3 linked regions of the Homo sapiens genome follow. The protein of the gene in region 3 interacts with the protein of the main gene of each other region in a biochemical or structural test. Each region holds a gene or a part of one and is shown on either strand. Other genes may lie near its edges.

What was found. The genes of interacting proteins can lie anywhere in the genome.
Region 1: the proteins of MTCL1 (region 3) and MARK2 form a complex in vitro, tested with the Homo sapiens proteins (one study listed by BioGRID).
Region 2: the proteins of MTCL1 (region 3) and TUBB3 form a complex in vitro, tested with the Homo sapiens proteins (one study listed by BioGRID).

What each region holds. Positions count from the first base shown.
Region 1 is NC_000011.10:63,842,110-63,846,637, reverse strand, and holds part of MARK2 (serine/threonine-protein kinase MARK2), read right to left. Parts: intron 1-4,528. UniProt on the Homo sapiens protein: Serine/threonine-protein kinase. Involved in cell polarity and microtubule dynamics regulation. Phosphorylates CRTC2/TORC2, DCX, HDAC7, KIF13B, MAP2, MAP4 and RAB11FIP2. Phosphorylates the microtubule-associated protein MAPT/TAU.
Region 2 is NC_000016.10:89,933,342-89,937,625, reverse strand, and holds the end of TUBB3 (tubulin beta-3 chain), read right to left. Parts: intron 4,159-4,284; coding exon 4,048-4,158; intron 2,898-4,047; coding exon 1,822-2,897; 3' UTR 1,529-1,821; downstream 1-1,528. UniProt on the Homo sapiens protein: Tubulin is the major constituent of microtubules, protein filaments consisting of alpha- and beta-tubulin heterodimers. Microtubules grow by the addition of GTP-tubulin dimers to the microtubule end, where a stabilizing cap forms.
Region 3 is NC_000018.10:8,819,469-8,825,024, reverse strand, and holds part of MTCL1 (microtubule cross-linking factor 1), read right to left. Parts: intron 3,559-5,556; coding exon 3,527-3,558; intron 855-3,526; coding exon of another isoform or gene 809-854; exon of another isoform or gene 667-808; intron 327-666; coding exon 1-326. UniProt on the Homo sapiens protein: Microtubule-associated factor involved in the late phase of epithelial polarization and microtubule dynamics regulation.

The sequences.
Region 1 (4,528 bases), on a different chromosome or scaffold from region 3:
TGACTCATGCCTATAATCCTAGCACTTTGGGAGGCTGAGGCAGATCACGAGGTCATGAGTTCAAGGCCAGCCTGACCAACATGGTGAAACCCCATCTCTACTAAAAATACAAAAATTAGCGGGGTACAGTGGCGTACACCTGTAATCTCAGCTATTCAAGAGGCTGAGACAGGAGAATCACTTGAATCCGGGAGGCGGAGGTTGCAGTGAGCTGAGATCGCACCACTGCACTCCAGCCTGGGCAACAGAGCAAGACTCCGTCTCAAAAAAAAAATTTTTTTTTTGTAGAAATGAGGTCTCACTATGTTGCTCAGGCTGGTCTTGAACTCCTGGGCTCAAGTGATCCTCCTGCCGTGGCCTCCCGAAGTGCTGGGATTACAGATATGAGCCACCACACCTAGCTTGAGAAACTTGAAACATTCCAGACAAAAACAGATATGAAGATAAAGGGATCTAGCCTATTTATACTTATCAGAGGAGGAGATGTCTAGAGGGCAAGAGGAGGAACTGGGATGCCTCCTCCTCTGAGACACAACTGGAAATCAAGAGGCCAGATTCTCTCTGGGTGCTGTTTAGAATCAGCTGTACTATCTCAGTCTAAAAGATAAGCAATGATGCCGGGCGCGGTGGCTCACTCCTGTAATCCCAGTACTTTGAGAGGCCACGGCAGGCGGATCACTTGAGTCCAGGAGTTCAAGACCAGCCTGGCCAACATGGTGAAACCCTATCTCTACTAAAAATACAAAAAGTGGCCAGGCATGGAGGTGCGCACCTGTAATCCTGGTTATTTGGAAGACTGAGGCATGAGAATCGCTTGAACCCAGTAGGTGGAGGTTGCAGTGAGCTGAGATCCTGCCACTGCACTCCAGCCTGGGTGACCAGAGCAAGACTGTCTCAAAAAAAAAGACGAGCAATGACCTTCAATGGCCTATAACAAAAAGGAAGGGGGCGGGTGGCAGTAACATTCTGCTCAGGAGTTAGCACTTTCAGGGTTAACCTGGGGATAGCCTGGCTCTCCAGCAGTGGGAAGAGGGTGACTTCCTCCCCCACAGGTTTGTAAAGGCTTACTCTTCCCTTTGCAGAGACAGAAGGGAGAAAATGCATAGACAACACTTCAGTGACTCACTCATGTTTGATGAAAGCTGGGAGGAGGCCTGGAGAATCCAAGCTACAAGCACAAAACGTACAAATACTGGAATCTCCCATCAAGAGAAGGAAATTTAGCCACCTATCTGGTTTGTCATTTTGCTGAACTTCCACTGAAGGAGGAAGGGCCAGCTTTAAACTCCACCCACCCTTTCCACATCCTTCTCAATTTTTGCTTTGATGGGAAAGTGGGGAAACTGGCGGCCCCACCATGGCTAAAAGAGAATCAAATCCTTTCTATACTTCCTCTCAAAGCAGAGGCCTAGTAGCTCCAGTCCACAGCTTAACCAAGCAGAGGGAATAGGGGCTTGTCCTGGTTACTGTAGGAAAGCCTCATCAGGCAGTCTCAGGGAAGGAAGATGACCACCCTCCTCACCCTTTCCATCTGCTGAGGTTACTTCATTCCAATCCATTAATGGGCTTCAAAGTGCTGCTGGGGGGAGTCCATTTAGCAGAGAAGCTATCACGGGGCCAAAGGTGGCGCCCACCCCCTACCCCATTTGTCGATAATGGGCCACAAAGTCTGAGGCTTGGCTGCACTCTAGACATAAAATATTCATTCAAGTCGACATAATACATAAGTAGGAACCTCATGGAAGCTCCTGGGAGAAGAGAAATGCCAGCCAGGTGGCTAAGTGCTCAATGGGAAAGAGTTCATGAAGGCCTGGGTTAGTCCTGATCAAATGCCCACTGAGAATTGGGTTGTTCTGTCCAAAGGGGAAACAATCTAGTCTGAGAAGTTCTGACTCCCAAAAGCTCGAACCCTGCAAACCTCTTAGGCAAGCAAAGTCTCAATCTTTTCCTACCTCATAGGCACCAACTCTGCTTAGGACATTTATGCTGAGAAAAATCTCCAGCCCAAACTTTGGTTGGTCTGAAAGATTAAGTTATCCTTGTGCAAACTTTATTTTAATCTGCAGCAGGCCGAGTTTCAACAACTGTCTTATATCCATCTGTTTAGCTACTTTCCGAAGTCCATAAATTGGAGAAAAGTAATTTTTTTTTTCTGAGATAGTGTCTTGCTCTGTCACCCAGGCTGAAGTGCAGTGGCACAAACACAGCTCAATGCAGTCTCGACCTCCCCAGCTCAAGCCATCCTCCTGCCTCAGCCTTCTGTGTAGCTGCAACCACAGGCATGTGCCACCATGCCCAGCTAAATTTAAAAAAATTTTTTTGTAGAGATGGAGTCTCACTTTATTGATCAGGCTGGTCTTGAACTCCTGGCCTCAAGCAATCCTCCTGCCTTGGCTTCCCAAAGTGCTAGGACTACAGGCATGAGCCATGGTGCCTGACCAGAGAGAAATTATTCTAATTTACTAGGTACAGTTACTTTTCAGATTCAAAGGTTACGAACTCCAAGGACTCCCAAAGCCCTTGCTCTAACAACACTTCCTTCCTGATCTCTAGGGCCAAGCCGAAAGTGACACTATTTGGTCTGACATTCACCCACATTCCTGACCAGAAGGCAGCACCACCAAGGACCCCCTGGCCAGAATCAAAGGACAGAGTGAGAATTAGCACCAGGGCACACTGCTGCACAGCTCAGAGTGTGGACTGAGATGCTAGCTAGCCGATCCAATCTACCTAAGTTACACCAAAAGCAAAAAAAAAATATTTATCCAGCAGATCACCTGAGGTCAGGAGATCGAGACCAGCTTGGCCAATATGGCAAAACCCCGTCTCTACTAAAAATACAAAAATTAGCCAGCATGGTGGTGGGCGCCTGTAGTCCCAGCTACTCCCAGGAGGCTGAGGCAGGAGAATCGCTTGACCCGGGAGGCGGAGGTTGCAGTGAGCCGAGATCGCATCGCTACACTCCAGCCTGGGCGACAGAGCAAGACTCTGTGTCAAAAAAAAAAAGAGTTTTATATATATATATATTTTTATCCAGAATCAACAATGGGGGTCCAGTGAGAGTGTTTGGAGTAGTTCAGCTGTTCCTTATAGGATCTTGTAACTTTGTTTTCTTCACCAGTACTTCTAAACTCCCCTTCCTAGAACTGAGAGAATAAACAATGCCGCTCACTGCCTAGAAGCCTGACAGCAGCCCCCTCCCTTCCCACTGCAGCAGAAGTGGGGCAAGTTTTCTCTCAATCCCTCTCTCATAGTTTCTGAGGCCCAGAGGTGGGGCAGGTCCCAGATGGAGTAGCCTCTCCCCCAGGTGTTATGGAAAACTCTAGCAGGTGAACTCTGGAAGCTGGACCTTTCTCCAGGCTTGCCTGTGACTGCTGCTGCTGGCTGGAAGACAAACAGTCATCTTGCTGATTGCTTTCACAACTGCCAAGCTTCAGGCCAGCAGAGTCATTTGGAAAAGAAGTGAACAAAAAGCTCAGCTCACAAACTAAGAATCCCCCAAGCTACGAGCCCCAGATTAGAACCCTCCTTCTGCAAAAGCAGGAAGTCTATGGCTGTGAAAAAGCACATCTGGAATCAGGTGTCACAAAAACCATCTTAAAGACAGGGCTTAACTTTTTTTTTTTTTTAATCTCCTACTTTCACTGTTATAAGCGAAGTGGACAGCACACAGGCAATCTCCCTGTAACGCAAGGTTTATTTTTATGCTTCAACATTTTCAGTGTCTGTGTGTTTCAGAGTGATTAAAGGGCTCCTGGAAACAGGTTCTCATCAGCCACATTTTTAAAGAAGAGGGAGAGGAAGAGCAAGAAAAGAGACTGGAGACAACCAGTGGTGTTTGTTTACCTATTTTCTGGTAAAACCAGTTTTAAATTTAAATAAGGTGACAGAGGACCTTTAGGGGAGGAAATCAGCCCAACTAAATCCCCTTTTTAAAAAAAATAACATTAAGACTATAGTAATGACCAAGCTTCCATGACTACTTTATCTAAAATCACAACAGGACCAAGAAGAGGTTTCTTTCACTTGGTGGCATGATCTATTCTCGGAGGCCAGTGTTTGATATACCTGGCCTTGTGACCTGAGGAGCTGCTGCTTGTCTTTTTTCCCGTTTTAAAGAATACAGGAATCAGGCCCGGCGCAGTGGCTCACACCTGTAATCCCAGCACTTTGGGAGGCCGGATCACGAGGACAGGAGACTGAGACCATCCTGGACAACATGGTGAAACGCTGTCTCTACTAAAATCCAAAAAATTAGCCGGGCGTGGCGGTGTGTGCCTGTAGTCCCAGCTACTCAGGAGGCTGAGGCAGGGGAATCGCTTGAACCCAGGAGGCGGAGATTGCAGTGAGCCAAGATTGTGCCACTGCACTCCAGCCTGGCGACAGAACGAGACTCTATCTCAAAAAAAAAAAAAAAAAAGAATACAGGAATCTGTCTGGAATAGGTGCATCCAAGGTTTTCCAAAGTCCCTGCTTTTACTGGAATGAGACTTAATATTAAATCGATACAGTGACTGGCTACCCTGAG
Region 2 (4,284 bases), on a different chromosome or scaffold from region 3:
ATGGGACAGTGATGCCAGGCCTGTGATTGACATGGGTCTGGCACACTTAAGAATCAGTGACGGTGGCTCACGCCTGTAATCCCAGCACTTTGGGAGGCCAAGGTGGGCGGATCCTGAGGTCAGGAGATGGAGACCATCCTGGCTAACATGGTGAAACCCCATCTCTACTAAAAATACAAAAAATTAGCCGGGCATGGTGGCGGGCGCCCGTAGTCCCTGCTACTCAGGAGGCTGAGGCAGGAGAATGGCGTGAACCCGGGAGGCGGAGCTTGCAGTGAGCTGAGATTGCGCCACTGCACTCCAGCCTAGGCGACAGAGCGAGACTCTGTCACAAAGAAAAAAAGAACCGGTGCCATGTAAGACGTGGTTCCAGCCTCCGCCCCACCATGCGAGGGGTCGGCCAGGCAGCCGTGCGGAGGACAACCCCAAGAGTGAGATGTCAGAGCTTGCAGCTGGCCCCTCCCAACATTGTGAGGAGCAGAAGGATCCAGCTAACACGCTGTGTCTAGAGAAAGGATCCCGTGCTGTTTCAGGTAGATTTGGGGTGATTTGTTACACAGCAGCAGCCGGCGGAGGAGACACATCCCCGGCCCCATCCATGTTGGGGGTGTCAGGGCCAGAACTCGAGATGGCGGCCTCTGGGGCCTGCAGCCCTCGCATCTGAAGCTGGGGCCCGCAGTGCACACGGCCTGTCTTCTTCTGCGCCCATTGCCAGGTTGAAGGGTGATTCAAGAAGAAGGGGCCGCTCTCAGGGTACCACTGGGCAGAACCTGGGAGACTGAGGCTGCTGATGCCCCTCAGCTCCAAGGGGCGGGGTGGCAGGGAGGCGACTGTGGAGGGCTGGGCAGTCGGCCTCTCTGGGCTCCAGGCTCTGTCCCTGTAGGAGGATGTGGGGAACCAGGTGAGCGGCTCCTCAGGCCATGCCCTGTGTGGCTGGACACCAAGTATCATGCACCCCAGGAAGGGGCTGCCGGGGGCGGGAGGACTGATACGTCCCTCCCGGCAGCCCAGGCCTGCGTCCTGTGGCCGCATCTCCCTGACCTCAGCAGCCCCTCCCAGGGCCCAGCCCCGAGACACTAAACACACCGTCTTTTTCAGGGAGCACTCGGGGCCCCCTTCCCTACCTCCCTGGTTGTGACCCGAGGCTTCAGGTCTGATGGCAGTTTCCACCGCAGGAGGGACCACCTGCCCCAACTTTCAGCCTACAGACAGGTGGGAGAAAAGTCTGGGGTGCAAGCCGCTCTGTGGGAGGCCAGGGAACGAGTGTGGGGTTATTTCCAAGTCGGGAGGGCTGCATCTTGAGGTCTGGAATGAGGTACTTCCCGTTCCTTCTCCCGGGCTTCCCGTTTCCGGGGTCTCCCCACGGGCTGTGCCTTGAGACACATTCCGGCCCCCAGCGCAGGCCTCTCTCAGCCGCCAGCCTGGGAGAGGATGAGCTCTTCTTGCCTGTCCACCCGGGCCTCCCTGTCAGCCCCTCCACCTACTGGACACAACTTTCCAGAATAAAAGGACATCTCTGGCACCAAGCAAGGGTATCTGACAGCAATAGATTTATTAAGTATCCCCGAAAATATAAACACAAACCAGTAAAAAACAAAACCGTAAAACGTCAGGCCTGGAGCTGCAATAAGACAGAGACAGGAGCAGCTCACACGTGGCCTAGGTGGGGAGGACGAGGCCATAAATACTGCAGGAGGGCGGCAAGGGAGCCCTAGGGCGAGGGGAAAGCAGGGTGTCGGCAGCAAGATGGCTCCGGGGGTTTAGACACTGCTGGCTTCGGCCCCGGCCGCCACCTGCCTCTCACTCCAGCTGCGAGCAGCTTCACTTGGGGCCCTGGGCCTCCGACTCCTCCTCGTCGTCTTCGTACATCTCGCCCTCTTCCTCGGCCGTGGCGTCCTGGTACTGCTGGTACTCGGACACCAGGTCGTTCATGTTGCTCTCGGCCTCGGTGAACTCCATCTCGTCCATGCCCTCGCCCGTGTACCAGTGCAGGAAGGCCTTGCGCCGGAACATGGCCGTGAACTGCTCGGAGATGCGCTTGAACAGCTCCTGGATGGCCGTGCTGTTCCCGATGAAGGTGGAGGACATCTTGAGGCCGCGGGGCGGGATGTCACACACGGCCACCTTCACGTTGTTGGGGATCCACTCCACGAAGTAGCTGCTGTTCTTGCTCTGGATGGCCAGCATCTGCTCGTCCACCTCCTTCATGGACATGCGGCCCCGGAACACGGTGGCCACCGTCAGGTAGCGGCCGTGGCGCGGGTCGCAGGCGGCCATCATGTTCTTGGCATCGAACATCTGCTGGGTGAGCTCGGGCACGGTCAGGGCCCGGTACTGCTGGCTGCCCCGGGCTGTGAGGGGGGCGAAGCCGGGCATGAAGAAGTGCAGGCGCGGGAAGGGCACCATGTTGACGGCCAGCTTGCGCAGGTCAGCGTTGAGCTGGCCCGGGAAGCGCAAGGAGGTGGTGACTCCGCTCATGGTGGCCGATACCAGGTGGTTGAGGTCCCCGTAGGTGGGCGTGGCCAGCTTGAGGGTGCGGAAGCAGATGTCGTAGAGCGCCTCGTTGTCGATGCAGTAGGTCTCATCCGTGTTCTCCACCAGCTGGTGGATGGACAGCGTGGCGTTGTAGGGCTCCACCACCGTGTCTGACACCTTGGGTGAGGGCACGACGCTGAAGGTGTTCATGATGCGGTCGGGATACTCCTCACGCACCTTGCTGATGAGCAACGTGCCCATGCCGGAGCCCGTGCCGCCCCCCAGCGAGTGGGTCAGCTGGAAGCCCTGCAGGCAGTCGCAGTTTTCACACTCCTTCCGCACCACATCCAGGACCGAATCCACCAGCTCCGCCCCCTCCGTGTAGTGACCCTTGGCCCAGTTGTTGCCGGCCCCACTCTGACCTGTACAGGGAGAAGAGGGGTAAGAGACAGGGGCCAGGGACTCTGCAGTCCAGACCTCCAGCCCCTGCCTGAACATCCCAAGGGCAGCCGTGGCAGCCCCATGCCTGTTCTGTCTTCTGTAAAGTAGGCCCCACTGAGCACCCCTTCTCATACCCGCCGTGGCTTCCCTGAGCCGATGCTGCTGAGTGCTCAGGACGAGGGCTCTGGACAGAGTCTTGAGAACTTGGGGTCACAGCAGAGCGAGGCTCTGCCTCCTGAGGGGATCCTGGGTGAATGGATCAGCCCTCCTGCTCCAGCATACCTTCCTTCCGACTGGCAGTGCCAGGAGCCCAAACAGCCACCCCAGAATCCCTGGCAGCTGGGGGCTGGATGCGAGTTGGCATCTACCAGCTGGATGTGCTGCGGTCGGGAAGGCAGAAGTGAAGCGAGGCCCTCCTGTTTCTGTGGCGCGTCCACGGCCCCGCCCCAGGACACAGACATGGGAACGTGGCATCCACGGCCCCGCCCCAGGACACAGGCATGGGAACGTGGCATCCACGGCCCCGCCCCAGGACACAGGCATGGGAACGTGGCATCCACGGCCCCGCCCCAGGACACAGGCGTGGGAACGTGGCATCCACGGCCCCGCCCCAGGACACAGGCGTGGGAACGTGGCATCCACGGCCCCGCCCCAGGACACAGACGTGGGAACGTGGCATCCACGGCCCCGCCCCAGGACACAGACGTGGGAACGTGGCATCCACGGCCCCGCCCCAGGACACAGACATGGGAACGTGGCATCCACGGCCCAACCCCAGGACACAGGCATGGGAACGTCCTGATCTCTTGACCGCAGCAAGGCCTCGTGCTCCTGGACCCCGGAGTCCTCTGGAGGCCCCGTTCTGTCTCACCAGCTCTCTAGCAATTCTGTAAGCTTCTGTCTGCTTTACACTTCATTCCACTTGAAATGCATGAGTGGTTTCTGTTCTCCCCACAGAACCCTTTCTCTGGGCCTCCAATGCCCAGCTGTAAAATGGAGAGATGAGTTCCCACCATTCAGGATCATGTGAGGAGCTGACCATTCCTTGTTTCTCACAGCCGTCCCCGTCCACCGACCTGGGCTTGCCTGTGATGGGGTCTGCCATCAGAGCTTGGAGCAGGGGGAACTTACCAAAGATGAAATTGTCAGGCCTGAAGAGATGTCCAAAGGCCCCTGAGCGGACACTGTCCATGGTTCCGGGTTCCAGGTCCACCAGAATGGCTCGAGGCACGTACTTGTGAGCTGAGGGGAGAGAGGGGCTCGGTGATTCGGGTCACAGAGGGCCAGAGCCTCTCCCTCATTCTTTCTGAATTCTGTGCCCGCCTGCCATCCTCCTGCTCACATCCTAAGAGCCTGTACTCTGAAGTC
Region 3 (5,556 bases):
CTGGGCTGGTCATGGTGTCCGTGGTCATGGTGACACTTGTGGTTAGGTACCAGGAGGAGTCGGGGAAAGGCTCTGTGCTGTCCTCGTGCCCTGCCCGCCCCACCTCGGTCCTGTCGGCCCAAAGGTCCGGCCCCCCACCATTGTGGCCCCTGTTGGGTGTGTAGTCCCAGCTCTTGTTGAACTCCTCGATGTACTTGAGGTCGTCTGGAGACAGGGGTGGGGTGACATCCTCCTTGCTGCTGGTGGACGGCAGGCCCTTCTCAGGCAGGAAGGGGGAGATGTCCATTAGACGCTGGAACTCAGACATGGAGGACACGGACACCGCCCTGGGAAAAGCAGAAAAGAGGGTGTCAGTACCTGCCAGGGAGCCTCTGACACACCACAACACCCATGTCCTGCCCTGCATGAGAAGTGTCAGTGAAGGCACCCGCTGCCACCCACACCAGGAGAACACTGTCAGCTGCTCATGTGCTGCACTCACAGACTTACCCTGCGGGCATTTATTGGACTCTGCGTGGCTCTGGAATTGTTCCTGAAGCCTTGCATTGGTCAGAATTTAATACAACCAACTCTGGCTCACACCCGTAATCCCAACACTTTGGGAGGCCAAGACAGGAGAATCACTTGAGGCCTCAGTGCCTCAGTGAGAATTCTCAGGAGACTCACTCGGACCACAGCTGAAGGGTGAAGACGGTGAGCCACGGCGATGGCCAGGTTTTGGCAAGCTGCCACCTGATGGACACAGATTTGGTGTGGATTCTTCCATGTGTTAGCACTTTCAATTTGCCATGAGTTCGCTGAATGCCTCTCACATGCCTGGCAGGTGCTGCAGGGGTGCCAGCAATGCTTCCAGGCTAAGACAGAAAGTGGCCGGAGTGCTCGGGCACGACTACCACCAGGGCAAAGAAGTGGTGGTCAGGAACGGGGCTGGGGCTGCCTGTGCCTGCTGGCTCAGGCAACAGAACCTCTTTGGCCTGGAATCCCTCCAGCTGGGGTGGGATGGGGCGATGAGGTGTCTGTAGACTCACTGTCCAGATTCTTACAGGACATACTGATACTCCTTTCACCCCACAAAGCACAGGCTTAAACCTAGGGATCTAGACTAGTGCAGGCCCTGTGGAAGGGGTCCCAGATTGAGTGTATGGACCACTCCTCCATAGGACCTATTAATGATGATGAGGCCAGAATTGGGGTCTGCTCTGAGCAAGTCCCTGTACCGTGTGCGCTGGTACACAGAACCAGCAAAGCTCTGGGCAGCTTTGCTGACAGCTGGCTTCACCTTGGGGGCAAGGCACCCGTCCATGTGGTCAGCACCACGGGGTAAAACAGCAGGCTAAAAGTGACATCGTTAGGCATTCCATCTTGTTATCTTTTTGTTGTTAGAAATAATCTACAAACTGTCCAGTGGTGCTTTGAATAACCACAAGCTGGCTATATCCAGTGCCGGAAAGGAAGGGCAATGGTAGGGATGGGTTGATTTGTCCCAAGGTCATGAGCTTTCCAGCAAGTATGAATTTCCCTCTTCTCAATTCAAGGAGTTGCTGAATTAATGATGAGTTTCAGAACACTGTTCGCTGGGGACTGTAAGTGCCGGACACATGCCAACACCCTGGTCCTTTCCACATTTCTGTGGACATAGCTCATCTAACTCCCACTTTTGCCCACAGAGGAACTGTCTCAGAGTTAAATCAGTGGCACCTACCTGGGTGGGAACTCAGTGCCTCTGGGGCATGGATGGATATGGTGGAACAGAGATGATAAAGACAGAGAAAGCAGAGGCATTAACCTCAGCAGTGGCCAAAGCAAACAAAACCATGATGAGAAAACCCGGGATACATCTGGAGCATGTGTAGGCGCTTGCAGGTGGAACGAAGAGAGTATGGTGGAAACATACCGGGCAGTCAGAATCAGAGGACATGGGGACAGTGGGGAGGGCGCATCCAGTTTCCACTTTGGATATTTTGAGACTATCTATCTATCTATCTATCTTTTTTTTTTTTTGAGACGGAGTCTTACTCTGTCGCCCAGGATGTAGTGCAGTGGCGCAATCTCGGTTCACTGCAACCTCCGCCTCCCGGGTTCGGTCAATTTTCCTGCCTCAGCCAATATTTACATTTTATAACAAGCATGTGTTACTTTTGAAAGCATAAAAGTTGATGGCTTGAGTGGTGAAGTACAGTTGCTCCAAAGCCTAACCGGAAACACTGATGTGGCTGCTGCTGTGAACGGGGAAGGTGGGAGGGTGTAATGACTAAACTCTGTTTACTGTTTGTTTTGTGCCATGTGCTGCTTTCATTATGTGTATTAACATACATAAGCTGCAAAAAAAAAAGATAATCAAAATACGTCCTGTATACAGATGAGGAAACTGAGGCACAAAGCAGTTGAGTAACCTACCCAAGGAGGCAGAAGCGATTCAAACCCAGGCAGTTTGGGCTGGGCACAGTGGCTCACGCCTGTAATCCCAGCACTTCGGGAGGCTGAGGCGGGTGGATCACCTGAGGTCAGGAATTCGAGACCAGCCTGGCCAACATGGCGAAACTCTGTTTCTATTAAAAGACAAAAATTAGCCGGGTATGGTGGGGTTTGCCTGTAATCCCAGCTACTTGGGAGGCTGATGCAGAATTGCTTGAACCCAGGGGGCAGAGGTTGCAGTGAGCCAAGATTGTGCCACTGTACTCCAGCCTGGGAGACAGAGCGAGACTCCATTTCAAAAATCAACCAACCAACCAACCAACCAACCAACCCAGGCAGTTTGGCTCTAGAGCCTGAGCTCTCAAGTACTGTCCTGTACCACCCAAGAAAGACCAGAGAAGACAGCGTGAAGGACAGAAGTGTGCCACAGGCATGGCTAGGTGCTGCAGAGATCTGGCAGGGAGCAAATGGGAAGAGGACAGTCATTCACAGACTCGAAGTTCAGAGGAAAATCAAGGATGAGGCGATCTGGAAATGCTGAATTGCCTGAGAAGAAATTTCATGTAGTAGAAACGGTATGTATTCATTTGGAGAATGATGAAAAAGTAAAACTGGAGGAAATTAAACTGGGGAGGAAAAAACTGGTGTGTAACTAACAACCACATCAACCACTATATATCTTCTTCAAGGACTACTGCCAGAAAATATTTTAATAAATTCTCTTAGTGGAGCTTTTAAATACAGTGTATAAAGCATCTCACAGCATACAAAAGAGAGTTTTCCCAGACTTTAAATGAGAAAAGAGAGGTTTCCATGGACCTTTCAAAAACCACTCAACACAAGCATTCCTTTGTATACATAACACAACAACAACTGGAAAGTCCTTACCATAAAACTCATACACATGTGACACAGCACGTCTAACTTCTTTGTTAATAATCAAAAATACCATGTTTATGAAATGAATAATAAAGCAGCCACTTCTTCAGAAGTGGCATAATTTTAAGTCATTTTGAAGAGAGTGGTAAAATAGACTGCATTGACAAAACAACATTTTAAGACCAAGACATTTTTATTCTAGTAATCTATTATTTTCATCAATCTTACTTACCTTTGAAGATTTCCTTTGTGATTTTCTTCTTCCTATAAAGAAGAAATAACTTCATCTGAATCGGTTAATTTTGGTTGTCCAGAAGCCCTGAATGTACTTAAGTGATTTGTTTGCTCTGCACCCCCAGGAAACCACCATTTAAAATGTGCACTGAGGCCAAGCTCTGGTTAGGAGTGCTACTGCCCTGAGGCCTTTAAAGTACAATCATCAAAGCGAGTCCACAGCATGATGAGGGGCTGGAGCTTCTGTAGTCCAGGGAGAAGCCCACATGAGTGAGAACAACTGGCTATAAACTTTGTCATGGAGGAGGTGGCTCTTCTGTGCTTCCTCAAAGGACCTCACTGACTACATGAATTTCAAAGCGGGATTTGTAACAACCTAAGTGTGAGAGTGAGACTGAGAGAGAGAGAGAGAGTGTGCATGTGTTATGTTAGAGAGAAAGATGGAAGGTGATAGAGTAACGTTAGTGGTCCCGATCTTGCTGTAGAAGTTGGCGTGACATCCTTAGACTCGGGCACTTGGTTGGTTTTAAACATTCCCATTTAGAATCAGAGGCAAAGTACAGTGCCTTCCCCTTTAAGAAGAATGATAGCTGTGTTTGTAGAGAACGGCATAAACACGAGGTTGTCTGCTGAGAAAACACTCTTGTGCTGATGTGGTTTTGAAGCAGCAAGACTCTGACTAACAGTAAGGGAAGCATATTTTTCAAGACAGTAAATAGCAAGGGGTACCCTTCCCCTTAATGAGCATGCCCCTTGTCTCTGCCATGCAGGGTCCAGTGGGCTGGAACCCACGCACAGGCTCCTGACCCCACCCCACGTTACCTCTACTATGTAATCGGACTGTATAAGATTGCCAATAGATCAGACAGGGTGGGACTGTGGCAATGTCCTATCAACCTGGTACACATTGCTGAGGATAAGGCATTTGACCTTACTGATGTGGGTGAAATATAATTTCTGCATACTTCAATAACACTATTTGATATGAACTCTTCTAAGTCTTGAGTGTTTAGGAGACCAAATGATAGGTGCAGCAACTGTTGAACTGCTTCACAGGTAATGAGTCCTAGAATCAACTTTTTTTTTTTGGATGGAGTCTTGCTCTGTCGCCCAGGCTGGAGTGCAGTGGCGCGATCTTGGCTCACTACAAGCTCCGCCTCCTGGGTTCACGCCATTCTCCTGCCTCAGTCTCCCAAGTAGCTGGGACTACAGGCACCCGCCACCACGCCTGGCTAATTTTTTTGTATTTTTAGTAGAGACAGGGTTTCACCGTGTTAGCCAGGATGGTCTCGATCTCCTGACCTCGTGATCCGCCCACCTCGGCCTCCCAAAGTGCTGGGATTACAGGCATGAGCCACCACATCCGGCCCTAGAACAACTTTTAAAACAAGGTTTTAAAAATATTAAAACCAGAAAAACATAACTAACGCTGTGCCATGGAAATGTCTACAGCTTAGCTCACCCATTTGGTGGTCTAATTTATGTAAGGTTTCTAAGTGTTGGATTTTTTTCCCTTTGCCCAGAATATTTTTGGTTATTAGTTTTCTAGACTCAGAAGACTGTACTATTATTTCAAGAAAAGTTGAGGCTGGGTGTGGTAGCTCATACCTGTAATCCCGGCACTTTGGGAAGCCAAGGCAGACAGATCACTTGAGCCCAGGAGTTCGAGACCAGCTTGGGCAACATAGGGAGACCCTGTCTCTACTTAAAAAATAAAACAAAATAAATTAGCCAGGCATGGTAGCATGTGCCTGTGGTCCCAGCTACTCAGGAGGCTGAGGGGGAAGGATCAATTGAGCCTAGGAGGTCACGGCTGTGGTGAGTCGTTATCAGACACTCCACTCCACCCTGGGCAAGAGAGTGAGACCTCCATCTCCAAAAAAATCAAAAGAAAAAAGAAAAAGTTGAGCATATACACTTCCCAGAATTATTTACTTCCTCTTGTGTGTTTTATGGGACACACTTATTTGTGAGACCTTCCTTTTGTATAGGACTCTAGTCCAGTATTTCTAAACCTGAAACAAGGGG